2 linked regions of the Homo sapiens genome follow. The protein of the gene in region 1 purifies or fractionates together with the protein of each later gene. This does not show direct contact. Each region holds a gene or a part of one and is shown on either strand. Other genes may lie near its edges.

Region 1 (14,998 bases):
TAGTGCCTGCCTGACACCCATGTATATCCATCTTCTTCAAGTAAGTCCATAAGGCCCATTCTACAGAGCCTTGGACAATGTCATATAGCTGAGATCCTGCTATTCACATTGGTCAGAGATGCCTGGAGTAGTAAAAAAAAAAAAGAAATGCTTATTTCTGGACTCCTTGAAGTTATACTGTTAGTAAACTCATATGAGAAGTAAAGCCAGCTTCGAAAACAACAAAAGGAAAAGGCGACACAGAAAAGAAATGGTAAAACCAAGGTACGAGGTGTCTTGGTCCATTTTGTGGTACTGTAACAGAATACGACAAACTGGGTAACTATAATGAGCATACAGAAACTGGCTTATGATTATGGAAGCTGAGAAGTCCAAGATCAAGGGGCTGGCATCTGATGAAGGCCTTCTTGCTGTGTAATAACAAGATGGAAGGCATGACATGGGCAAGAGAGGGAAGGGGACACAAGTCATCCTTTAATAAGGAACCACTCCCAAGATAATGAACCCGTTCCAGAGATAATGGCATTAAACCATTCATGAGGGCTGCCCTTGTGACCTAATTTACCTCTTAAAGGCCCTGCCTCTCTATACTGTTGTATTGAGGCTTAAGTTTCCAACATATGAACCTTGAGGGACACATTCAAATCATAGCAAAGTGTTTCATATACCCTCTCTTCATTGCTGTAATTAATTCCAAGTTTTTTTTTTTTTTTTGGAGGCGGAGTCTCACTCTGTCGCCCAGGCTGGAGTGCAGTGATGCGATCTCAGCTCACTGCAACCTCCGCCTCCCAGGTTTGAGCAATTCTCCTGCCTCAGCCTCCAGAGTAGCTGGGATTATAGGCGCCTGCCACCATGACTGGCTAATTTTTGTATTTTTAGTAGAGACAGGGTTTTGCCATGTTGGCCAGGCTGGTCTCGAACTCCTGACCTCAAGTGATCCACCTGCCTCGGCCTCCCAAAGTGCTGGGATTACAGGCATGAGCCACTGCACCCAGCCTGTAATTCCAAGTTTTATAATTTTATAATTCCGATGCAGAAAATTTTCTTAAGGACAATTCTGACTCATTTTTGTATTCTCTGGATCTGGTATACATCTGGTAAGCATTCAGTCAAAGTTTTAAAAAAAATGATTGAATGTATTACAATCTTTAGTCATGTGAGGAAACAATTTTTAAAAGTATACTATTTCAAGAAAATTGCTTCCTCAGTATCTAAGCAAATTCTGAAGGTGAAAGAGTTGACAAGTCTGAATTAACTATATATGCAAACTCTTAACACTATGTCAAGTAAGACAGTGGGATTCAAAGTGTGCACCACAAACCAGCAGCAGGAGCATCAACTGGGAGCTTGTTAGAAATTCTCCAGCCCTACTCCAGACATACTGAATGAGAATCTCTAGGGTTGTGGTCCAGGAATCTATTTTCAACTAGTTTTCCAGATGACTCTTGAACACACTAAAGTTTGAGAAATACCATTTCAAAATATCGTCACGTTTACAAAACAAGTCTTATCAGTACTTCTGTTTAAGAAGACTCACCAGTATGACCAGTACAACTTGCCATTTCCTAGTGAAAAGATCATCAGTGAGAACCACAAGGCTCTGTATCTCTCTGGAAATGACTCAGCCTTTGTAAGCCTCTGCATCCTCCACTGCACTGTGCCTTATACTCTTCATAAGGTTACAGTTAAGAGCAAAGAACACAGTTGACATGAAGGTTCCTTGTAGGCTATAAAAACTAATCAAATACTACAGCAAGAGCTTTCTGGTTGTTTTTTTTAGACAGGGTCTCACTGTTGCCCAGGCTGGAGTGCAGTGGTGTGATCGCAGCTCACTACAACCTCCCCAGGCTCAGGTGATCCTCCTATCTCAGCCTCCCAAGTAGCCAGGACCACAGGGACACGCCACCACGCCTGGCTAATTTTTGCATTTTTTATAGAGATGGGGTCTCATTATGTTGCCTAGGCTGGTCTTGAACTCCTGGGCTCAAGTAGTTTGCCCACCTCAGCCTCCCAAAGTGCAGGGATTACAGGCGTGAGCCGCCGCGCCCAGCCAAGTAAGAGCTAGTTAAGTGTGCCTATGGCATCAGCATGGTCACAGTATTGACATTTCCAGGGGGATTTTGCTAAGAATTAGTATAGGTAAAAGATAAACTAATTTCAAAACTTACTACAATGCTATAGTAATCAAGATAGTGTGATACTGGCATAAGGACAGACATACAAATGAACGGAACAGAAAAGTGAAACATAAACCCTTATATTTATGGTCAATTGATTTTTGACAAGCTTACTGTTATACTCCAATTGTGTTCCCCCAAAATTAATATGTTGAATCCCTAACCCCCAGTGTGACTGTATTTAGAGAGAGGGCCTTTAAGGAGGTAACTAAGGTTAAATGAGGTCATCAGGGCGGGGCCCTAATCCAACAGGGCCTTATAAAAAGAGGAAGAGACACCAGGAGTGTGTGTACATAGAGGAAAGGCCATGCGAGGGCTCAGAGAGAAGGCATCCATTTGGAAGTCAGGAAGGCAGGCCTCACCAGAGACCAACCAGGCCAGCACCTTGATCTTGGACTTTCAGTCTCCAGAAGTGTGAGAAAATAAATTTATATTGTTTAAGCCACCCAGTCTGTGGGATTCTGCTATGGCAGCCTTAACAGACTAATACAGATACCAAGACAATTCAATGGGTAGAAAACTGTCTTTTCAACAAATGGTGCTAAGGCACTGGATATCCACATGCAAAAGAATGAAGGTTGACCCCTACCTCATATCATATACAAAAATTAGTTCAAGGCCGGGTGTGGTGGCTCATGCCTATAATCCCAGCACTTTGGGAGGCCGAGGAGGGGGATCACTTGAAGTCAGGAGTTGGAGACCAGCCTGACCTACGTGGCAAAACCCCATCTCTACTAAAAATACAAAAATTAGCCAGGCATGGTGGTGTGCACCTGTAGTCCCAGCTACTCGGGAGGCTGAGACAGGAGAATTGCTTGAACCCAGGAGGCGGAGGTTGCAGTGAGCAGCCTGGGTCACAGAGCAAGATTCCGTCTCAAAAAAATAATAATTATAAAATAAAATAAAAATAGTTCAAAACAGATCACAGACCTATGTAATGCTACAACTATAAGACTATTAGAAGAAAACATAGGGGTTGCTATAGTTTGAATGTATCCCTTAAAAAATCACATGTTGGAAACTTAGTCCCTCTGCCTTCATGAACAGATTAATTAATAAAAGCTTTGCCCTCATACCTGGATTAATGTCACTATCATGGGAGTGGGTTTGTTCTTGCTTGCCCTCTCACCATGTGATGCCCTCTGCCATATTATGACACAGCAAGAAGGCCCTAACCAAATGCCAGGCACCATGTTCTTAGACTTCTCAGCCTCCGGAACCATGAGCTAAGTAAATTTCTTTAGAAATTACCCAGTCTGTGGTATTCTGTTTAGTAACAGAAAACTGTCTTTACTAAAGACAGTAGTAAATCTTTGTGACCTTGGGTAAGGCAATGATTTCTTAGATATGACTGCACAAGTGACAAAAAATAGATAAACTGGACTTCATCAAAATTTAAGTTTTACATTTCAAAAGATACCATTAAGAAAGTTAAAAGACAACCCACAGAATGAGAGAATATTTGCAAATTATATATCTGACAAGGAACTCGCATCTAGACTATTAAGAACTCTTGTAACTCAACAATAAAAAGACAATTATCCAACTTAAAAATGGGCAAAGGACTTGATAGACATTTCCCCAACAAAGAAACAAATGAACCAAAAAGCGCATGAAAGAATGTTCAACATCATTAGTAGGAAAATGAAATGAAAATAAAAACAAGATATTCCTTCATACTCACTAGGATGGCTAAACTCAAAAGGAGAGACAATAACAAGTGTTGCTGAGGATGTGAAGAAATTAGAATACTCATAGACTGCTGGTGGGAATGTAAAATGGGGCAGTCATTTTGGAAAAGTTTGGCAGTTCCTCAGCAGTTAAACACAGTTACCATATAACCCAGAAATTCCACTTCCATGTACCCAAGAGAAATGTCCACACAAAAATTTCTACACAAATGGTCACAGCAGTATTATTCAAATAGCTAAAAAGTGCAAACCCAAATGCCCATCACCTGATGAATGAATAAATAAGATGTGGCAAATCTATACAATGAAATGTTATCCAGCAATAAAAAGAAATGAAGTACTGACACATGCTTTAGCATGGATGACCCTTGATAACATTAAGCTGAGTAAAAGAAGTCAGTCACAAAAGGCCACATACCATATGATTCCATTTATATGAAATGTCCAGTAAAGGCAAATTCTTAGAGACATAAAGCAGACTAGTGGTTGCAGGCAGAAAGAAGAGCCAGTGCAAAAATCTTAAGGCTTCAATCAAAAGACTTTTATGTTCATTTCTTGATGGTGGTCTACACGGCTGCTGTTGGATCTTCAAAATGAATTAAGAATCCATAGCACAGGAAAGGCTCTTCAAAAGTCAATCCAATAGTAAGTTATGGATTTAGAGCTGACTTTCTTTAAACCACTCAGTCAAAACCAAGATAAAGGGTTATTTTTTTTTTTCTTAAAATCTCTAGGGAAGAAGAATCCAGTCACTCTTGGAAAATCAATCCAGTATACTATATAAATCTATCTTCTTATACTTCAGAACCACATTTCCAACTATCTGCTATACATTTCTACTTGCATGCCTTATAGATAACACACATGCAACATGTACAGAGCCAGGTTTGTTACACAGTGGACAACTGTTACTCTTTGGCTGAACATTCTACTTTGTTTCGGCAATAGCAACCTGATTTCCTTCTGCAGAATCACCTTTTCCCCTCAATATAGTTTGAAGAGAGCATTAATAAAGTCCCTGTTTGCCTCTAATCAAAAGAGTAAAAATGAAGGGATAGGAGGAAGGAGATCCAATGCTTCCTCCCTAGAGAATGGATGATAAGCAATACAACCTAAACACTAAAGATAGCTGGCATTCGCTCACTCTAGCAGCAATGCCCCGGCTGGCTGACTGCCACTCTGACACTTCTTAGCCTGGCTCTTCAGTCTTCCCTTTCAACCTAGGGGTCCCTCCTCTCCCTACTAATATTTTAATAAATTTCCTTCTTGCTTAAGCTAGACAAAGTCCCTTTCAACTGCTTTGGAATCCAAGAACCCTAAGTTCCACACATTACTTTTCCATGTCTGCTGTCTTAGTTAATGTCATCATCAACCTCATTCAGGCTTGAAATTCAGGTTAGCAAAGCCTCCCTCATCCCCTCATTTAATTAATCATCCAGTGATAAAAATTCTGCTGCTTCAGGGCCTCTTTCACATTACCATTCCTTTCATTACAACTTTCTGAAACTCTCTCTCTCACTAGGTTAATTATTCATTCATGAAACAAAGTTGCTAAAGCACAGACCAGATTTTGTCTGTCTACTGAAACAACTCTGGGGCTCCTCCACAAGGCTGGCATTATAGGCCTCTCATAATCTGTCTGCCTTTCTTTCCAATCTTAATGCTATTTTCAGCTACTTCCTTAAAATTTCAGGTCATTTCAACAATAACCTGAAGTAGAGGTAAAAACATGTTAAAATTTTGATCTTATGTGATGCCTGGGATTTGCTTCAAAATAATATGGGAGAAGAAAAATATGGAAAGGGGTAGAGAATGGGGATAGGGCAGAATTGGCCATGGGTTAATGGTAGCTGAGGCTCCATTATATGCAGGCTCAGTGCACTATTTTATCTAACCCTGTGTTATATTCAAAATTCTCTACATTTAAATCATTTTAAATGTCTTCGCTTATTTGAGAGGGGAGTCCATAGTATTTCAATCCTGAGGACAATAGAGAAATGCAGATTCAAATTCTTTTTTTTTTTTTTTGAGGCGGAGTTTCACCTGACCTTAGGTGATCTGCCCACCTTGGCCTCCCAAAGTGCTGAGATTACAGGCGTAAGCCACTGCGCCTGGCCTCAAATTCTTTTTAAATTCTTTTTAATGTAAAACAATAGAATTAGGAATCCAAAAAAGAATAAAGAAAACTGGACTGACATAACAAAGACAGGAAGAAAACAAACAGAATGCATAATTATCAGTATAAAAGATGGCATAAAATCAAATGTAGCAGTTATTACAAAAGAGAGTCAAATTCCCCTACTAAAAGGTAAAAACTCTAGAGTTAAAAGACAAAAGCTATATGAGACAATGTACTTTTAAAAAAGGGTATACCCAGACAAACCCAAATTATCTCCTTTGAGCAATAAATCTCATCTGCAAAAAGAGATAACATTCATACCTGAAATGATTCCCACTTAGAATCTCAAGACCTTCTGTTAAGGCACAGTGCAGGCTGGTCTGGGCTCCCTGCTGAGGAGTCTTGATGAAAAAGGAGAAAAGCCACCACATCCATCTCATGAAAGATGAGTGCCGAACCAGTTCAGATTGGACTGTGCCAGGGTGTACAGAATACGTCGTAACGCCAGAGCCTGGTTGGGGGTGGCATGAAGAGAGGGTAAGACAGGACTTGATTTTGCAGAATAGCCCAAAACAGAAAAGGATGTAAATAAGCATGTGACCTTCACATATGGACTCTTTTGCCCATGGTGACATCAGAAGTACTGCTCACAGTAATTTATACTTCCATCTCACAGATCTAAGAAGGCTCTAGAGTAGACAGTGCTAAGGACCTCTGTGTATTTCTGACTGGAAACTCAAGTCAGGAATCAGCAGAGCCAAGACTCATCCTCTCAGCAGCACTTAACATCGTTGACCACCCCCTTCTTTTTTAGAGATGGGGTCTCCCTATGTTGACCAGGCTGGTCTTGAACTCCTGGCATCAAACAATCTTCCCACCTTGGCCTCCCAAAGTATTAGGATTACAGGCATGAGCCACCACACCCACCCCATCCCCTTCATTTTTTTGAGACAGGCTTGCTGTGTTGCCCAGGCTGGAGTGCAGTGGCATGATCTTCCTTCTGCCACTGCCTTCCAGGTTCAAGCGATTCTCCTGCCTCAGCCTCCCAAGTAGCTGGGACTACAGGGGTGCGCCACCACACCAGGCTAATTTTTGTATTTTTAGTGGAGACGGGATTTCATCATGTTGGCCAGACTGGTCTTGAACTCCTGACTTCAAGTGATCTGCCCACCTCGGCCTCCCAAAGTGCTGGGATTACAGGCGCCCATCCCCTTCTTAAAGTCTTCTTTTTCACTGGCTTCCATAAGCCTATGCCACTTCTGGTTTTCCTAACCTTTCTGGCTGCTCTGTCTCAGTTTTCTGGACCAGTTCATCATCTTCTACACAAACATTAAATGTTGGAGTTCTCGTGGCTCACCAGACTCCCTCTCCATAATTCTATGGTGCTCACATTTTGTCCACAGTCCAAACTGCTCCTCTGAACTGCAGACACACTGGGAGTCAACACAATGTGGTGGTTATGGGCATGGATTTTGTAGACAGACTGCCCAGTTTCAAATCCTGGCTCCACTCATTAGCTGTGTAACCTTGGGCAAGTTCCCTTTTGTGACTCATTTCTTCATCTCTAAAATGGGAATAATCATAATACTTACAACCTCACAGGGTAGTTATGAGGATTAAATGAGTTCATATATGTTAAAGGTCTTAAAAGAGTGCCTGATGCAGCTGGGCGTGGTGGCTCACACCTATAAGCCTAGCATTTTGGGAGGCCAAGGCAGGTGGACTGCCTGAGCTCAGGAGTTATAGACCAGCCTGGGCAACACAGTGAAACCCCGTCTCTACTAAAATAGAAAAAATTGGCCGGGCATGGTGGCGTGCACCTGTAATCCCAGCTACTTGGGAGGCTGAGGCAGGAGAATGACTTGAACCAGGGAGACAGAGGTTGTAGTGAGCCGATATCGTGCCACTGCACTCCAGCCTGGGCGACAGAGTGAGACACCGGTGCAAAAAAAAAAAAAAAAAAAAAGTGCCTGATGCATGGTAAGTGCTAAATGATACTTTTGCACATGCTATTTCAGGCCCCCAATCCTTTATGGAAAACGCTGGGGCCAGACATACTTCAATTTTTTTCTCTGATTGTAGAAAGGTAATATGAAATGTATACATACACTGCCTATTAATCTAATCTCCCTAGTACAGGAAATGTTTTGCTGCCAAATGAGTTTTGGTGTAAAGCTTTGAAGAAACAGAATTTTTCTGGTCTTTGTGGACTGACAGCTGCAGACACAGCTGTATTATTCCCAACTGCCTACTCGACATCTCCCTAGATGACCCATAGTAATGCAGACTCAGAGGTCCCAAATTGATTTCTACTTTTAAAGCCAAACCTGGTTCTTGCAGTGTTCCCGACATGCCCAATCAGGCAAAAGGGTTCTGATGAATGCCCACCTAAAGCATGCATCTCCAGTCAACAAGCTTTCCCAAACCAAATCTCTCTCAGAAGTTTCTACTACCCTCCAATTCCACCACCTAGTCCAAACTACCCTCATTTCTCACCTCTGCTGATGAAATCAACTGCTGCAACCCCTCTTGCCCCCATTTTGAAAAGGCTTTAATTTTAACCGTTTCCCATTGCTCTTAGAATAAACACTAAAATCCTTACTGTGGCCTCTAAGGGTTTGGCATCTACCTACCTCACCAGTCTCAGCTCAGATCTTTATTACTCTTGCTTTCTACAACCTACCAATGGTAACCTTCGCTGTTTCTCAAACTGAGCCCGGACCTTTGTACATTCTCCTCCTTCTGCCTGGAATGTTTCTCAGCCTCCATATTCCTTTTTTTTTTTTTTTTTTTTGAGATGGAGTTTCACTCTTGTTTGCCCAGGCTGGGGTGCAATGGTATGATCTCAGCTCACCACAACCTCTGCCTCCCAGGTTCAAGCAATTCTCCTGCCTCAGCCTCCTGAGCAGCTGGGACTACAGGCACACGCCAACATGCCCGGCTAATTTTGTATTTTTAGTAGAGATGGGGTTTCTCCATGTTGGTCAGGCTGGTCTTGAACTCCTGACCTCAGGTGATCTACCCACCTCAGCCTCCCAAATTGCTGGGATTACAAGCATGAGCCACCACGTCCGGCCCTTTTTTTTTTTCATTTTTTCAGACAGAGTTTTACTCGTGACGCCCAGGCTGGAGTGCAATGGCATGATCTTGGCTCACTGCAAACTCTGTCCCAGGTTCAGGCGATTCTCCTGCCTCAGCCTCTCCAGTAGCTAGGATTACAGGCGCCCGCCACCACACCTGGCTAATTTTTGTATTTTTAGTAGAGACAGGGCTTTCACCAAGTTGGCCAGGATGTTCTCGAACTCCTGACCTCAGGTGATCCACCAGCCTCGGCCTCCCAAAGTGCTGGGATTACAGGTGTGAGCCACCGCGCCCGGCCTCAGCCTCCACATTCTATCAGTACCTCTAATCCATTTAATTTCTAATCATCCTTCGGGGCTCAGCATGCAACTCACTTCTTCAGGAAAGTCTTCCCTGAACCCTCAGACTGAATAAGGTCCCCCCAAGACTCCCACTAAAATCCATTGTAAGTCCTGGTACTTCTCCTTTATAACATTTATCACAATTATAATTAAACAGCCACAACAAAAAGGAAACAATCCAGATGTTGTTAAGGAAATACATAAATACACTAAGGCACATCTATACTACGAAATACAACACAGCCAATACAATTAAGGGGTAAATCCATATGTACTAAATGGAAAGATCTCCAAGATACTGTGTTGGAGTTTCAGTTCCTTGTGCATGATACATACATATGTAAATGCATAGGAAAATTATTGGAAAGGGGCACACAAGCTGTTGATAATGGTCATATGAAGGGAGAAGAGCAGGGGGAAGAGGGGAATAAATGAAGGTGGTTTTTCACCTTAATTCTACATACTTCCATATGCTTTGAACTCTTTTTTTTTTTTTTTTGGTAGAGGAGATGAGGTCTCACTATTTTGCCCAGGCTGATCTTGAACTGGCCTCAAGTGATCCTCCGGTTTTGGCCTCCTAAAGTGCCTGGGATTAAAGGTGTGAGCCACTGTGCCTGACCTTATTTGAGCTTTTTACAATGAGAATTATTCATGCATTACTAGACTGATTTTACATTTAATAGTTTGTATAAAGACTTGCTAATTGTCTTTCTCCCCCGTTAGATGTAAACCAAACCAAAGAAGAGACTATACCTATCTTGTTCACCAATTCATCCCCTGTCCCCTAACCCAGTGCACGGAACAACATGGGCACTGAATACGTGTCTGCTGAATGGCTGAATGAATGAATCTTCTGTCAAACCAGGGTTCTTTTACTGCACCATAATGATTTTCCACTGAATCCTCACAACTATCAGAGTCACCTCATTCATGTATTAGTGAATTCTCACCACTGGACCCATCTTTCCACCTCCAGGCCACCCTAGCTCCCTGATCAACTCTTTGGATAGTTTTCACCATCCAGTTACCCTTATCTATCCTAAACTGATAAAAGATGTCATGCCCTGGGCACAGACTGGGCATAAGGACTGAGCTAACCACCAGTTTCCTTCCCATCTCACAGATGTTCATTTGGTAGGATGATCCTATTCCAACTATAGGGCACCTGTGCCTGATTCCTTGAGCCTGCATTCTGCCTGCCTCAATTCCTAGCACAGTTCACCCTCGATTTCCCTTCTCTTTATTAGAAATCCAGAGTAGACAGTGCTAAGGACCTCTGTGTATTTGTGACTGGAAATTCCCCTTCTCAAGCATATATTTCCCTCTTATTTGATGCTTTGCAAGGGAGACCCTGCCCCTCCATATTCCCAGTACCTGTTTTAGTCTACTGCCTTTATCTAGTGCCAGTTCAGGTCCTTCCCTCATACTCAGTCTCACTGTGAGTAAAAAATCTTGACTTGCTTATGAAGCCTGAATTAATTATGACAATAAACTGTGAAGTAGTCCCATTTACATATGAAGAAGGAAGTCCTAAAAGTTAAGTAATGGCCAGGTGCGGTGGCTCACACCTAAAATCCCAGCACTCTGGGAGGCCAAGGTGGGTGGATCACCTGAGGTCACGAGTTCAAGACCACCCTGACCAACATGGTGAAATCCTGTCTCTACTAAAAATACAAAAATTAGCCAGGCCTGGTGGCACGCACCTGTAGTCCCAGCTACTCAGGAGGCTGAGGCAGGAGAATCACTTGAACCTGGGAAGTGGAGGTCGGCAGTGAGCCGAGATTGCACCATTGCACTCCAGCATGGGTGACAGAGCAAGATCCCGTCTCAAAAAAAAAAAAAGTTAAGTAACTTGCTATAGATCACACAGCTAGTAAGTAGTAAAGCCAGGCCTTCAGACTCAAAGTCAGAGTCTCACTGTCCCAGCCAGCCACCTCCAATATTCAGTTGTAGACTACTTACTAAAACTGTACCCAATTATAGCCACGGAAGCAGGTCCTCTCCAGGTGATGGGCTCTGGAAACAGTTTCCATTCCTGTGGCTTTTACCTGCCTCTCTCTGACTCATGTCTCCACATTCATTTCCTCTAGGCCCACCTTTTAGTCTCCGGGCCAGTTCCTGGGTGAAGAGGATGTTGGCTAGCTTGCTGTGACAGTAGGCCAGGCCTGCATTGTAGAATTTCTCGCCCTGCAGGTTATGGAAGTGGATCCTTCCCAGGTGATGTGCGAGGGAAGACACATTTACTATCCTTGATGGGGCTGATTCCTTTAGTTTCTCTAGCAGCAGATGGGTTAGGAGGAAGTGACCTGTTGAGAAATACTAGAATTAATGAAGTTCAGGGCCATGTAGGAATGACAGGAGTCGTGGTGAGCAGGCCTCACCTATGGGAGGCAGATAATTCAGAAATAAGGTCTTTCCCTCCAACTTTTCATTATCAACTAGAAAACAAGTTTAATGAAGGTTTAGGGAAATAACAACAGCCAAAGACATGAGGCATCCTTATATGAGCGAGATAGGTCTAGACTATGTGAATATGAAGTCCCAGCTCATTCCTACTTTGGTTAATCTCATTCTTAAGAGCTGGTTGGCTGGGTGCGGTGGCTCACGCCGGTAATCTCAGCACTTAAAGAGGCTGAGGCAGGAAGGTGCCTGAGGCCAGGAGTTTAAGTACAGCCTGGGCAACATAGCAAGACCCTGTCTTTACAAAAAAAGAGCAGATGACCTATACCTGATGCTGGCCACAAGGATCACTACTAAGAAAGCAACACAGTCCCCTAAACCAATTAGTCTGTTAAAAAATGCGCCAAGGCAAACCAAATCTAAATCACAGATTAAAAAGCGGGCAGAACCTGGAGCAGCCCTCAGGTATTCCTCAGCTATCAGGTAGGACCAAACTATTATGCACACATGGTCTATTATGGTCCTGAGGTTCAATCACACAACAAGAAGCCTCAATCTGACCCCTAAGTTTCCCAAAGAGAATTTTGGGTCTCTCTAGCTTTGTGATAAGGCCAGATTTCTTACCCAAGTGGTTGACTCCTATGTGCATCTCAAAGCCATCTGCTGTCTTCGAGTACGGACACATCATCACTCCTGCATTGTTGATCAAAACGTGGAGGTGCTTTTCCTCTGCAGGGACAAGACGATGGAGCGTGGAAGTGGCTAGCCAAGGCTATTACATCTTAGAAAGCTGCCTCACGCTCAGGCTTTGAAAATGAGGATGCAGGACTTCAATCTTCCCTCCATTTTTCCTTCATATTTATTTTCTATTGTTTTTCATTTTAAGACTTTAGTTGAATCCCACCTACTTTTACTATGGGGCAGAATTCCATTTTATACTACCAAATGACCTTCCAGATCCTTGTAGTTCAGGAGCTACTTACTCACTGCTTTTGGGAATTGTTGCATCCACCTCTCTCAATAAAAAGACTTCCCAAGCTGAATGGAAAGATTCCAAAGCAAGAGAAAAAAGAATGTTCTCTATGTACCTCTGCCCTGGGATTCAGGTCCCCAAAGAAATAAATACTGGCTTCACCTCTTTATTGCATCTTCCAATTCTCTCTCATGGTTCATTTCCTCATGTGGTTTGTAATTTATGACTATGAGTTCACACCAGTGAAAGCTTTTTCCTTGGAGGCCTAGATCCCTGGGCTATAAGGGGATATGCCTATAGAGTGCTCTTGGATTTGCTTTTGATGAGACACTACAGGTTTTTACGTTAATTTTCCATAGAGTATTACACACACATACAAAAATCAAACCCATAAATATCCTCATATCATTTGGTGGTACGAATTCAGACCCCACACATGATGCCAGCTCGGGTTCTAATTTTTTGCAGGTAAGTATCCATCTATGTCTAAAGAGATGGTAAACTTCTTTGTCATGTCTCTGAGCTGGTGGCCAGGATTTTTATTAGCTTCTATACTATGGACCAGATGGCCCTTTGTGAATCTCAACTTTGTGTAGAACCTCAAATACAGCTCCAGCTCTCAAAGGCCTGTGGCCTCATCTCCTATCCCTGTGTAAGTATTTAGACCCCAGACCCTAAAAAGCCTGTACTGAGTGCTGAGACTCCCATGAGATTTCTGGCTTCAGCTCTTACTCACTGCTATGACGTTTTGAATTCATTTTTTGTTTCTGCCTCTGGAAGATATCCCTTTGACATAAATTGTGTCCCAGTGACTATGAGTTCAGCTACAGAAGTTTTTGGCTATATTTTATCCACCACTTCTATGAGGAAGAGGGACCTTTTCCTTTTAGTTGAATCTGCCATGTTGACCTCAAGACCCACAACATAGTCTCTCTAGTTCTACACTTACCAGCTAAGAAGCCCTTAGCAAAAGCTCGAATAGACTTAGTATCAGACAGGTCCAGTTTCCGCACCAACACCTGCTGGTTCCCTGTCGTGGTCTGGATCTCTTTGGCCACCAATTCCCCCTTTTCCACATCCCGGCAAGCTAAATATACTCGAGCTCCTGTCAGCCAACATATGAAAGAGAAATGGTCAGCTCTGTTTTTGAGCTGGCATTATAAATCTAATGTTATTTCCAACATTTTTTTAAAAAACACACATTTTTACCCTTTCTTCACAACAGAGGTATCTGATTAGCAAATAGGTAAAGAAAAATAAATTAATAATATTCATTAAGGGTCCATTATATGTAGAGCATAGTACTAGTTTCAGATCAGCAAATCAGTGGAATCCTTAGGTGTTCTTGAATTCCAAAACTGGGAAGAAACAATGAGAATGAATCATCATTACTGTGAGGGGTAAAACAGCAGTAATAGGAGGGAATTGAAAGGAGGTGAACTTGCCTCTCTGAGCCAGCTCTTTGGCTGTCTCCTTCCCGATACCTGTATTAGCTCCTGTGACCACAACTACTTTCCCAGGAAGCTGAACAGTTGATGTACACACCCCACTGGACAGCATTTTCCTGCAGACAGAGAAGGAGAGCTCATCAATTCTTCATTCTACTGTCTCAGCCAGTAGGTTCCTGCAACTCCCTGTGTCTTCTGGCTGAGGTTTGCTTTAGTTCTTTCCACTGTTGTCCTTTTAAGGAAACAGTGTCCATTTAAGGAAAGTTGGAGGAAAGATGACAAAAGTTTTCTGCTTTTGCTCAAAGACAAAAGTGATTCTATTACAAGGGCAAAGCTTACAGCTGTTCTCTGCAGCACAAGAACTGGATGAATACCTGCTTAGCCAGGCACCTGGCTTTGGTTTGAGCTCTCTAAGGCACTTGTGACTTAGGAAATCACAAGATTCAGCCCAGAAGAAGAAATAACTAGTTTCTGTAGGTCAATCTGTCCACAACTGGCATTTTATGGCCTTGAGAAATGGCTAATCCAATACAAAAAGTTAAAATTATGAAAGCTTGTGACTCTGGGACAAAATAAACAAGAAAAAAAAAACACACCCACACGCATGCACATACACACTTAAAACAAAGAGAAGATTATGTATGTACAAAGGGGAGCTGGGATTCAAGTCTTGCTTTGTGTAATTAGAGTCCTTGTTTCTTTCTTTCTCTTTCTCTTTTTTTTTTTTTTGAGACAGAGTTTTGCTCTTGTTGCCCAGGCTGGAGTGCA
Region 2 (13,096 bases), on another chromosome or scaffold:
GCGTTTGGGTACCCAGACATTCTGCAGTCGTGTCATTGATGAAGAACTCAACCCACAGTGGGGAGAGACTTATGAGGTGGGAGAGTTGAGCAGCTCTGTGAAATGGGGAAGCCCCAGGAGGTTGTGAGAGAAGATGCTGATTGGATGATCCTCACAGCTGCAGCCCCATGAGACACTCAGCCTTCTGTGTTCCCCAGGTGATGGTACACGAGGTCCCAGGGCAGGAGATTGAAGTGGAGGTGTTCGACAAGGATCCAGATAAAGATGACTTTCTGGGCAGGTGAGACTCTGCCTGTTAGGATTCTAAAGCCCATGCTGGCCAGGCACGGTGGCTCATGCCTGTAATCCCAGCACTTTGGGAGGCTGAGGCGGGCGGATCACGAGGTCAGGAGATTGAGACCATCCTGGCTAACACGGTGAAACCCCATCTCTACTAAAAATACAAAAATTAGCCGGGTGTGGTGGCGGGCGCCTGTACTCCCAGCTACTCGGGAGGCTGAGGCAGGAGAATGGTGGGTGAACCCGGGAGGAGGAGTTTGCAGTGAGCCGAGATCGCGCCACTGCACTCCAGCCTGGGCGACAGAGCGAGACTCTGTCTCTAAAGAAAAAAAATAAAAATAAAAAAAATAAAGCCCATGCTACCGAGGTTCTGGAGGTAATTATACTCACTTTCTGGGCCTGGGAATCATGTATCATTTTCCTTCCTAACCTCCCCACCCCCAGCCCCTACCATGCACATACTCACGCATGCAGGTGAATATCTTCTGAGAGGAATAAGGGAGTCTGAGATCTGCCAGTCATTTCTGGGTGGGTGAGTGGAGGGCCACTGACATGCTGCTAATTACAACACTACCCTTTTCTTCCTTTCACTACCCTCTCCCCCGCCAACCCTCAGAATGAAGCTGGATGTAGGGAAGGTGTTACAGGCTAGCGTTCTGGATGATGTAAGTTGGGAGAAGAGGAAGGTGGGGGCTGATCTCACCCTTTGGGTAGATAGTAGTTGCTACATTGGTAGGGAAGTAGTTGAGCAGGTATCTGATCTCTACTACATCTCAATTTCTTCTAGTGGTTCCCTCTACAAGGTGGGCAAGGCCAAGTTCACTTGAGGCTAGAATGGCTGTCACTTTTGTCAGATGCAGAGAAACTGGAGCAGGTAAGCCACATGGGAAATAGGAAGCTGGCAGGGGAGAAATAGGTAGCTGGAAGTGTAGGGGACTTGGAACGGGGACCAAGATCTGACTACTACCACCCCTCCCCAGGTTCTACAGTGGAATTGGGGAGTCTCCTCTCGACCAGATCCCCCGTCAGCTGCCATCTTAGTTGTCTACCTGGATCGGGCCCAGGATCTTCCTGTGAGTTTGGCTGGGTGAACAGGAGCCCTGGATGTAACATTCCCCAACCCTGCCTTGCTGAGGATGCAAATGTCCCTGCCTGCTTTGCTCCAGAAGTATCAGCATGTAACATAAGGGTCCCAGGGAGGGGATCAGATCCATCTCAGGGAAAGGATTCTGATGCGATCCCACCTTCCTTCACCAAAACCAAAACCGAATCCCCCAAGATGGTGACCTCTGAATTGTACCCACCACAGCTGAAGAAGGGGAACAAGGAACCCAACCCTATGGTACAACTGTCAATTCAGGATGTGACTCAGGAGAGCAAGGTGAGGGCCAGGACATCATTGTGGGTGGCCAGGTAGGACAGGGAGAGGCCTATTCTTGGGATGGTTTCCCCTTTAGAATGCCTGTTACATGCAGGGGTTTTCTGCAGAAACAGGAATGGTGCTGTGGTATACACCCTTAATCCCTCCTCTACATCTCCAGGCTGTCTACAGTACCAACTGCCCAGTGTGGGAGGAAGCGTTCCGGTTCTTCCTACAAGACCCTCAAAGCCAGGAGCTCGATGTGCAAGTGAGATAATCACCTCTTCATCCCCTCCCGAATACCCTATTCTGACTTCCCAGATCTGTACCATTTCTCCTCTCCTTCTTTTCCCTTGATTCCTATTTTTAATCCATCTACCTAGACTCCCCACCTCCCTGAATATCTCTCCATTGTTCCCCAACTGTCGCTCCAGAATAATATTTTTTTTTTTTTTTGAGATGGAGTCTCGCTCTGTTGCCCAGGCTGGGGTGCAGTGGTGCGATCTCGGCTTACCGAAACCTCCACCACCTGGGTTCAAGCAATTCTCCTGCCTCAGCCTCCCGAGTAGCTGGGATTACAGGCAGGCACCACCATGCCCGGCTAATTTTTGTATTTTTAGTAGAGACAGGGTTTCACCATGCTGGCCAGGCTGGTCTCGAACTCCTGACCTCAGATGATCCGCCTGCCTCAGCCTCCCAAAGTGCTGGGATTATAGGCATGAGCCACTGCACCTGGCCTTAGTTCATAGGTACTTGTTCTTGAATGATTTTATATATGTGTGTCTTGTCTATGAAACTGGCCAGTAAGCATTGTGAAAGCAGATGCTATGTTTCGTGCTTTCTCCATGACCTTTAAAATGCTGAATGTTAACAATTTTATTGAGGCATAATTTACATACCATAGAATCACTCATTTTAGGTATACAAAAATTATTCTGAGGCTGGGCACGGTACCTAAAATGAGTGATTTTATGGTATGTAAATTATGCCTCAATAAAATTGCTAACATTCAGCATTTTTTTTTTTTGAGACAGTTTCGCTTTTGTTGCCCAGGCTGGAGTGCAATGGCGTGGTCTCGGCTCACCGCAACCTCCACCTCCTGGGTTCAAGTGATTCTCCTGCCTCAGCCTCCTGAGTAGCTGGGATTACAGGGATGTGCCACCATGCCTGGCTAATTTTTTTTGTATTTTTAGTAGAGACGGGGTTTCTCCATGTTGGTCAGGCTGGTCTCGAACTCCCAACCTCAGGTGATCCGCCCGTCTCAGCCTCCCAAAGTGCTTGGATTACAGGCGTGAGCCACCGTGCCCGGCCCAACATTCAGCATTTTAAAGGTCATAGAAAAAGCACAAAACATAGTATCTGCCTTCACAATACTCACTGGCCAGTTTCAGTTTCATAGACAAGACATACACATATAAAATCATTCAAGAACAAGTACATATGAACTAAGGCCAGGCATGGTGGCTCACACCTGTAATCCTAGCACTTTGGGAGGCCAAGGCAGGTGGATCACCTGAGGTCAGGAGTTTGAGAATAGCCTGGTCAGCATGGTGAAACCCTATCTCTACTAAAAATACAAAAATTAGCCAGGCATGGTGGTGCGTGCCTGTAATCCCAGCTACTTGGGAGGCTGAGGTAGAATTGCTTGAGTCCGGGAGGCGGAGGTTGCAGTGAGCCAAGATAGCGTCACTGCACTCCAGCCTGGGTGACAGAGTGAGACTCCGTCTCAAAAAAAAAAAAAAAATCAAAAATTTGCCAGGTGTGGTGGCATGTGTCAGTAATCCCAGCTACTTGGGAGGCTGAGGCAGAAGAATCATTTGAACCCGGGAGGTAGAAGTTGTAGTGAGCTGATTTCAAGCACTGCACTCTAGCCTGGGTGACAGAGCAAGACTCTGTCTCCAAAAAAAAAAAAAAAAAAAAAAGGAACAGAAGAATAGCAACAATTACATATGAATTTGTGGGAGTAAAATATCCATAGTATAGGACTAAGGAGGGTCAGAGAAAGGGATAGGCTGGAGTAACTAGGGAGATTTTGTGAAGCAAAAAATTGGATTTTAATTGAGTCTTGAAGGATGAGTAGGATTTAAATAGGCCGAGGGAAGAGAATGAGGACTTTCCAAATAGTGGGAGCAGAATGAACAAAGGTGGAAGGGGCCATGGATTGGGCAGAGGACTATAAAAGATGGCTCTGGCCGAGGTGGGCGGATTGCCTGAGCTCAGGAGTTTGAGACCAGCCTGGGGAACACCATGAAACCCTGTCTCTACTAAAAAATACAAAAATTTAGCTGGGCGTGACGGCATGCGCCTGTAGTCCCAGCTATTTGGGAGGCTGAGGTAGGAGAATGGGTTGAACCCAGGAGGTCGAAGTTGCAGTGAGCCAAGATGGCGCCATTGCACTCCAGCATGGGCGACAGAGTGAGACTCTGTCTCAAAAAAAAAAAAAAAAAAAAGATGGCCCTGAGTGGAGCAGGAGGTTTGTGATTGGTACAGAGAGGAATGAAGTTGGAGCCATGTTATCATTTTCACAGTATGCCTCCCTTTCCCCTAATCCCTTCACTACAGTCCTTCCTCCTGTGCCTGTAGGTGAAGGATGATTCCAGGGCCCTGACTTTAGGAGCACTGACGCTGCCTCTGGCCCGCCTGCTGACTGCCCCAGAACTCATCCTGGACCAGTGGTTCCAGCTCAGCAGCTCTGGTCCAAACTCCAGACTCTATATGAAACTAGTCATGAGGGTATGGAAATAGAGGAGGTACTGAGGTGTGGGGGAAAGGCCTGTTGATTCTTTGGTATTAAGAGTAAGGAAAGGGACCCCCCTAAGATTAAAAGAGCTAATACATGTAGAAGTGCCAAGCAGGCACAAAAACATATATTGATCTGACTGGTGGAAGGAATGGCTTATGAGTTGAGGGGGTGTGGAGGGAACCCTGTAGAGATGAGCCCAGCCAGGGCAGCACCTAGTTCCCCTGTCACAGCCCCTCCTCTACCCCACCCCACATGCTTTGCCTGCTGGTGACGAGCTGCACTTCTTTGATTCAGCATCATACTACCCTTCCTAGATCCTGTACTTGGATTCATCAGAAATATGCTTCCCCACGGTGCCTGGTTGTCCTGGTGCTTGGGACGTGGACAGTGAGAATCCCCAGAGAGGCAGCAGTGTGGATGCCCCACCTCGACCCTGTCACACGACTCCTGATAGCCAGTTTGGGACTGAGGTGAGTCTATATCTGGAAAGGACTAGGGTCTGTTTGCCCCGCTAAGTATGCAAAGCCTGTTTCAGGGCAGATTCTGACAGGTCTCTCTCCCTTTGCCATCTGGCACCCCCCCGTCCCTTTTGCAGCATGTGCTTCGGATCCATGTATTAGAGGCCCAGGACCTGATTGCCAAAGACCGTTTCTTGGGGGGACTGGTGAAGGGCAAGTCAGACCCCTATGTCAAACTAAAGTTGGCAGGACGAAGCTTCCGGAGCCATGTTGTTCGGGAAGATCTCAATCCCCGCTGGAATGAGGTTTTTGAGGTCAGAATTGAGTGGCTGTGACTCCTGGTTCTGCCCCATTTTTCCCCCAATCCCAAAAGTGGTCCAGAAACCTCTGAGGTTCAGTTGACTGGGGGGTCCAGTCATTTGCAGAGGAAAAGGAGAGAATCTTTCATCTGCACTATTTTCTCCCACTAGGTGATCGTCACATCAGTTCCAGGCCAAGAGCTAGAGGTTGAAGTCTTTGACAAGGACTTGGACAAGGATGATTTTCTGGGCAGGTGAGAGCATAGGAGTCTACGTGAAAAACAGGCTGGGGCTCTTTAGGCCATGGAGTCTGGCCTCCTTGGTTCTCACCATCTAGCTTTTGTCTTAATCTTTCTCTTCAACAGGTGTAAAGTGCGTCTCACCACAGTCTTAAACAGTGGCTTCCTTGATGAGGTGAGCATTGAATTAGAGTCAACAACCCCTCCTGATCCTGCCCAAGCTTCATTCTCAAAGTTCTCCTGTCTGCATATCCCCAAGTCTTCACCCTGCCTACTTCCACAGTGGCTGACCCTGGAGGATGTCCCATCTGGCCGCCTGCACTTGCGCCTGGAGCGTCTCACCCCCCGTCCCACTGCTGCTGAGTTAGAGGAGGTAGGGCAGGAGACTTGAGGAAGGAAGGGACCCAAGGTGGGGCAGGATGAGCTCTTCTCTTAGCGTTCAAGGCACATGCCAGAACCCAAGGTGTCAGTTACCACTCCCCAGCCCCGTGTGCCCCTCCACAGGTGCTGCAGGTGAATAGTTTGATCCAGACTCAGAAGAGTGCGGAGCTGGCTGCGGCCCTGCTATCCATCTATATGGAGCGGGCAGAGGACCTCCCGGTGAGATCCCGCTCCCCATGCCCCATAACTTCCTGGCCCTTCTTCCACCTTCCTCCGGTTTGGATGGTCCTGGAGTATTTAGAATAAGAAAAATGGCCCCTCTCTTTCTGAGGGTAGTGCAGGGGTGGGAAAAGTTGTCTGTTCAAGGCCACGGGTAGTGGCTGCCAAGTAATAATGGAGACATGGCTGCTGGCTGTGGATATAATTTGTGAGGGGGATCTGCCTAACTAGGTCCAAATTTAAGACTAACACAGTATTGTCTTTCTAGCTGCGAAAAGGCACCAAGCACCTCAGCCCTTATGCTACTCTCACTGTGGGAGATAGTTCTCATAAAACCAAGGTATGAAGAAATGCTGCAGGGTAAAAATGGGAGGGATAAGAGAAATAAGAGTATCAGCTACTGATCATAAGCCCTCATCTCCACCAGACTATTTCGCAAACTTCAGCCCCTGTCTGGGATGAGAGTGCCTCCTTTCTCATCAGGAAACCACACACTGAGAGCCTAGAGTTGCAGGTACTGTAAATTCATTCTTCAAATATTTAGCAGATTTCTGCCATGGCCAGGCAGGAAACCAGGCACAGAGCATTCAGAGATGAGATAAAAGGTTGACTTTTTTTTTTTTTTTTGAGACAGAGTCTTGCTCTGTCGCCCAGGCTGGAGTGCAGTGGTGCTATCTTGGCTCACTGCAAGCTCCGCCTCCTGGGTTCACACCATTCTCCTGCCTCAGCCTCCCAAGTAGCTGGGACTACAGGTGCCCGCCACCACACCTGGCTAATTTTTGCATTTTTTTTAGTAGAGATGGAGTTTCACCATGTTAGCCAGGCTGGTCTCGAACTCCTGACCTCAGGTGATCCGCCCACCTCGGCCTCCCAAAGTGCTGGAAATACAGGTGTGAGCCACCGCACCCGGCCAAAAGATTGACTTCTTATCTTTATGGAGCTCACACTCTGTTTTGGGAGAAAAATAACCAGATGAAACTTTCAGAATGATAACTGAGGTAAAAGGCACTGTGGGGAAGAAAGGAAGGGTTCAGGCTGGGGAAAGGCTGGAGATAGAAAGGCATCCTTAGATGACCCCTGAGCTTGAGGGTAGATTTTTTTTTTTTTTTTTTGAGACTAGAGTCTCACTCTTATTGCCCAGGCTAGAGTGCAGTGGCGCAATCTCAGCTCACTGCAACCTCAGCCTTCCAGGTTCAAGCGATTCTCCTGCCTCAGCCTCCCGCGTACCTGGGATTACATGCGCGTGCCACCATACCCCACCAATTTTTAGTAGAGACGGGGTTTTGCCATGTTGGCCAGGCTGGTCTTGAACTCCTGACCTCAGGTTATCCATCCACCTCAGCCTCCCAAAGTGCTGGGATTATAGGTGTGAGCCACTGCACCCGGCCTTTTTTTTTTTAGACAGGGTCTTACTCTGTCGCCCAGGCTGGAGTGCCGTGGTGCAATCAGGGCTCACTACAGCCTCAACTCTTGGGCTCTAGCAATCCTCCTACCTCAGCTGGGATAACAGGTGCACACTACCACACCTAGCTAATTTTTGTATTTTTTTGTGGAGATGAGGTTTTACCATGTCATCCAGGCTGGTCTCGAACTCCTGGACTCAAGCATTCTGCCCGCCTCGGCATCCCAAAGTGCTGGGATTACAAGCGTGAGAACCGCGCCCCAGCCTAAGGGTAGATTTACTGGTTCTTTCGGACCACGAAAAGAAGAGCAGGAAAACTCTTTAGGCTGAGAAAAAAAATGGAGGAGAGAGAAGGCATATTTATTATAGATCAGAGAGGCAGGCAGAGCAAGATCATAGGAGCTGTTGAATAGTATGCTAGAAATATGGATTTTATCCTAAGGCTTAGGGAAGCCTTTGTTTATTTTATTTATTATTTTTTTGAAACAGAGTCTTGCTCTGTTGCCCAGGCTGGAGTACAGTGATACGATCTCAGCTCACTGCAACCTCCCTCCTGGGTTCAATCGATTCTCCTGCCTCAGCCTCCCGAGTAGATGGGATTATAGGTGCCCGCCACCACGCCCAGCTAATTTTTGTATTTTTAAGAGAGACGGGGTTTCACCATGTTGGTCAGGCTGGTCTCTAAGTCCTGACCTCAAGTGATCCACTGCCTCGGCCTCCCAAAGTGCTGGAATTACAGGCGTCAGCCACCACACCCAGTCAGGGAAGCCTTTAATGAGAGGTCACATATCCAGATTTGCATTTTGGGAAGATCATAGGGATAAGAGGGTAAAGAATGGACTGGAGAGGGACAACACTGGGGGCAGGGAGATCAGTGAGGAGACTGTTAGAGCAGTCAAAGCAGGAAACGACTAAAGCCTGATGGGATTTGAAGATTGCTGTGATATGGAGCAGGTGGAGGAGCAAGGAACAGCCTAGACACTAACTCTGGGGTTTTTGGCACAGGGTGGCTAGATGGATAAGGGTGCCGTTGCTGACTTAGGGAGTGCACAGAGAGGGAATTTTGGAATTTGAGATCTCTGCAGGACATCCAAGAGAAGACATGCAGAAAACAAATCTATTGTCCATGAGGTGTTCCTCCCTTGCCCTCTTATTGGAACATCATGAGCAAGCAACCACTCATAAGTGTAGTCATGGGTGAGATCTCTTAGGCAGCGTGGAGAGTGAGGAGACAAAAGATGGCCATGAGCCATCTTACAGGTGTGAACCACTGTGCCCGGCTGAAATTAATAGAATTTAAAATAATGTAACTTAATGCTAGCAGAGTAGAAAGGAGGTACAAATGAGCTCAGTTCTTCATCTTTTATAGCAGGGAATCAATAGATACAAGCATATTAGAATTCCGTGAGAACAAAGAAAACAGGAGGGTTTTAAAGGTTGTTACATTTGGAATATGGCAATAGGAGTAGGATGGGCAAGAAACATTTACTTTTAGTTCTGTTTTTACTGTTGTTTTCTGTATGCTGTAGGTATTACTGGTATAATTTCTGAAAGCTAGGTTGGGCGCGGTGGCTCACGCCTGTAATCCCAGCACTTTGGGAGGCCAAGGCGGGCAGATCACAAGGTCAGGAGATCGAGACCATCCTGGCTAACACGGTGAAACCCTGTCTCTATTAAAAATACAAAAAATTAGCCGGGTGTGGTGGCGGACACCTGTAGTCCCAGCTACTTGGGAGGCTGAGGCAGGAGAATGGCGTGAACCCAGGAGGCGGAGCTTGCAGTGAGCTGAGATTGCGCCACTGCACTCCAGCCTGGGCAACAGAGCGAGACTCCGTCTCAAAAATAATAATAATAATTTCTGAAAGTTTATGAGGTAAAGATGGTCCACTCTACTCTGGTTAAGAAAGGAAGGACAGGCCAGACACAGTGGCTCACACCTGTAATCCTAGCAATTTGGGAGGCTGAGGTGGGTGGATCACCTGAGGTTGGGAGTTTGAGACCAGCCTGACCAACATGGAGAAACCCCAGCTCTACTAAAAATACAAAATTGGCTGGGCGTGGTGGCAGGTGCCTGTAATCCCAGCTACTCAGGAGGTTGAGGCAGGAGAATCGCTTGAACCTGGGAGGCGGAGGTTGCGGTGAGACCAGATCACGCCATGCACTCCAGCCTGGGCAACAAGAGCGAAACTCTGTCTCAAAAAAAAAAAAAAGGAAGGAAGGACAGAGGGAGGGACTAGCAACTGTTACCATGGCTTCCCTGCCTTTCTCAAAGGGAAATCTCACCAAACCACCTATGAGTCCAAGCGTTTGGACCTTTAAAACACCAGGATTAACTCATTTGTTGATGCATTCGCCTCTTGATCATGGTCCTGTTGCCCCACAGGTTCGGGGTGAGGGCACTGGCGTGCTGGGCTCATTATCCCTGCCCCTCTCAGAGCTCCTCGTGGCTGACCAGCTCTGCTTGGACCGCTGGTTTACACTCAGCAGTGGTCAGGGGCAGGTGCTACTGAGAGCACAGCTAGGGGTGAGTGACAGGAGATGGTGGGCAGGATGAGAGGGAGGAGGGGAGGGCCTTCACAGGTGAGGGACACCCAGGAGGGTGGGAACAGAGGGCCGTGTCCTTAGAGTGAGGGAACTGAGAGAACTCTGCCCAGCTCACAGCTTTCTTGCCCCTAGATCCTGGTGTCCCAGCACTCGGGAGTGGAAGCTCATAGCCACAGCTACAGCCACAGCTCCTCATCGCTGAGTGAAGAACCAGAGCTCTCGGGGGGACCCCCTCACATCACCTCCTCAGCCCCAGAGCTCCGGCAGCGCCTAACACATGTTGACAGGTAAAGGGCTGGGACAGGAAGGTGGGACGCAGTCAGAAATAAAAAGTATTACAGGTTCACTAGGCTCTAGCTTTCCCCAGACCTACTGATATTTCTCCACAGTCCCCTTGAGGCTCCAGCCGGGCCTCTGGGCCAGGTGAAACTGACTCTGTGGTACTACAGTGAAGAACGAAAGCTGGTCAGCATTGTTCATGGTTGCCGGTGAGACCCCATCCCTCCTGTCCTCCAGATCGCCTCCATCCCTTCCCTCAGGTTACCATATCACCTACATCCTCCTGTTGTAGGTCCCTTCGACAGAATGGACGTGATCCTCCTGATCCCTATGTGTCACTGTTGCTACTGCCAGACAAGAACCGAGGCACCAAGAGGAGGACCTCACAGAAGAAGAGGACCCTGAGTCCTGAATTTAATGAACGGTCAGTCAGTGGGCATTCAGGTGGAGAGATGGCAGGCTTGGAAAGGACTCCTGGCCCCTAACATCCAGTCCTACCCCAGGTTTGAGTGGGAACTCCCCCTGGATGAGGCCCAGAGACGAAAGCTGGATGTCTCTGTCAAGTCTAATTCCTCCTTCATGTCAAGAGAGCGTGAGCTGCTGGGGAAGGTAAGAGGGCAGGATGGCAGGGCAGAGGTGAGGGCTGGAAGCTGCTGGCACCAAGGTTATAGTCCCTGTGAGGAAGGAAGTACCCCACGTGATCCTTTAGAGGTGACTCACCTCTGCAATGGTTTGGGACGAGTATGTGATGAAGGAACATGGTCTTTGGAGATTTCAAAACAGCATCATCAGAATGAGATCCTGTCTCAAAAAATAAAAGAAATAACATCTTTCCCCTATCATCTTCCAACACAGGTGCAGCTGGACCTAGCTGAGACAGACCTTTCCCAGGGTGTAGCCCGGTGGTGAGTGTCTGCGTGGGTGGGGGATGGTCTGGATATTTCAGTGGGAGAAATTCCAATCACAGGAAAGGAAAAAAAGATACAATCTGAGCAGAGAACCATTGATTCTATCAAGTAGAGAAGCCCTTGGATCGTGTCTCATTTATAAATATGATGACACAAGAGTCATCTTTCTACATGAGCCCTCTTTTCACAGGTATGACCTGATGGACAACAAGGACAAGGGCAGCTCCTAGGAGCTGGCGAGTCCCAGCCTGACTGCTCTGTCTTCCTGCCTTCGTCTCGCTCCATCACCGCCTCAATGTGATGAGCCTAAAGCTAGGGTCCAAGGGCAGAGCCTGTGCCCTTCAGCCCTTTCACCTAACAGGCCCATATTCGGGCCTTTGCCTGACCAAAGAGAAGAACCGTATGTTCCCTTTACTGCACGGCCTTTATCCTTCTGGGCCCCTGGGGCGGGGACCTGAGCTGGCTGTTTCCTGCTTTGCCTGCACATTGTTCTCCCTTCCTCCCAACTCCTCAGGGCCTTCTGTATCTGTGCCTGGCCAGTGGCAGCACTAGCAGTGGTATTAGCTTATGCCAAATACAGCTTTGGAAGGATCTTTTTTTCTTTAACTAGATGGTCACCTTCTTCCCTACCACACATGGGTGGGAAGGTGGACAGGCTAACCTCTCCAGCTGTGAGCCTCTTAGACTACTGCATGTAGCAAATGTTCAGCAGCTCAGGCCCCCATGTCCAGTTCTGTCCCCACTGTCCTCAACCCTGTCCTGAAAATTCTACTGCTTTGATGGCTGGGGCCAGTCTCTTGTCACTTTGGAAACTGAGGACGCGTGGATTCTACTCAAGCCTCCAAGTAGTGGCATATCAGTCTTGGAGCTCCTAGCTGGTGATACGGAGAGGGCTTTGGAGGACTTGGGACAGCAGGGCCAATTTTTTTGCCCAAGTGCCTAGGCTGCTAACTCACTGACTAGAACTTAATCTGGTACTTTACAGTTTTGCACCAACTCTGCCAAGCCACTGGATCTTACATTAAACATCATACTCAAACCAGCTGTGGTTCTTTTCCTTAAGGATAGGGAATCAATCTACCCATCTGATGTTTATTCCTACTGTCAAAAGCCTTTATCCAATTCGTGAATCATGTCAGTTTAATTAATGGTCAAAGCCTACTAAGGTTGCAGCCACCAAGAATGTTGAGGATGGTCAAGAGACCTGTGTAAAGTAGCTGCTGTTGCATTTCAGGTGAGACTCATTTCCAGTCACAGTGATGAACTCTGTTACCCATCCAACTTGTCTGCTGACCACTATAGGCTTTCCAGGGAAGGGATTCCTAAACCTGGTAAACCTGGGAGCTCTGTGCCACTGCACAGGCTCCTGGTGTCTCTGTGCCACTGCACAGGCTCCTGGTGTCTCTGTGCTGTCAGGGCATGCTCAGCTACATTCAAAAGGGCTTCAGGCCCATCTAGCAGGAGCTGAGAAATACACCCATTTCGATCATCTGTACACCTTGAACTCTGCTCCTTGCAAGAACTTTCCTGGAATGCAAGCTAGAGAAGCTGTGCTCCATCTGTTCTGCCAATTGAAAGGAGAGAGATGGACAGAGTGAACTACTGAAAACAGGGTCACTGGCATAGGAACTTGGGGATTTCATAACTGACTCAGAGAGACTTTACTATCGTCTCTTGAAAAATATAAACCTTCCTTAGGATGCTGCCCACTGGGAGAAGAGGGAAGACTCAGGGGAAAGGATTCCTGCTCAGTTCCACAAGTTGTCGAAATTTGCTTAATTAGCAAAAACTGAATTTAAACTCCACACTGTCCACAAACTCAGCCTCTATGTTCTCAGTGACCCTTTTGTATTCACTGCTGGTTCCTCTACCATCTCCACTTCCTTCCCATCAAAGTAAGAGGACCCCAAGCCTTGGCTTTGAGCAAGGAGGTCTTATTTATTTGCTCCATTCCCCAACTCCGGCTCTAAAATCACAGGGGGAAA

What was found.
Region 2: the proteins of RDH11 (region 1) and ESYT1 purify together in Homo sapiens (affinity purification with mass spectrometry; 2 studies listed by BioGRID and IntAct, with this or other methods). This does not show direct contact.

The regions. Positions count from the first base shown.
Region 1 is NC_000014.9:67,678,707-67,693,704, forward strand, and holds part of RDH11 (retinol dehydrogenase 11), read right to left. Parts: intron 14,347-14,998; coding exon 14,228-14,346; intron 13,888-14,227; coding exon 13,732-13,887; intron 12,539-13,731; coding exon 12,434-12,538; intron 11,716-12,433; coding exon 11,506-11,715; intron 6,499-11,505; coding exon 6,309-6,498; intron 1-6,308. UniProt on the Homo sapiens protein: Retinol dehydrogenase with a clear preference for NADP. Displays high activity towards 9-cis, 11-cis and all-trans-retinol, and to a lesser extent on 13-cis-retinol.
Region 2 is NC_000012.12:56,132,522-56,145,617, forward strand, and holds the end of ESYT1 (extended synaptotagmin-1), read left to right. Parts: coding exon 1-76; intron 77-197; coding exon 198-280; intron 281-895; coding exon 896-944; intron 945-1,066; coding exon 1,067-1,153; intron 1,154-1,259; coding exon 1,260-1,352; intron 1,353-1,558; coding exon of another isoform or gene 1,559-1,588; coding exon 1,589-1,660; intron 1,661-1,820; coding exon 1,821-1,907; intron 1,908-4,222; coding exon 4,223-4,372; intron 4,373-4,696; coding exon 4,697-4,852; intron 4,853-4,977; coding exon 4,978-5,154; intron 5,155-5,310; coding exon 5,311-5,393; intron 5,394-5,504; coding exon 5,505-5,553; intron 5,554-5,661; coding exon 5,662-5,751; intron 5,752-5,882; coding exon 5,883-5,978; intron 5,979-6,246; coding exon 6,247-6,318; intron 6,319-6,405; coding exon 6,406-6,492; intron 6,493-9,763; coding exon 9,764-9,904; intron 9,905-10,056; coding exon 10,057-10,211; intron 10,212-10,313; coding exon 10,314-10,412; intron 10,413-10,495; coding exon 10,496-10,627; and 9 more. UniProt on the Homo sapiens protein: Binds calcium (via the C2 domains) and translocates to sites of contact between the endoplasmic reticulum and the cell membrane in response to increased cytosolic calcium levels.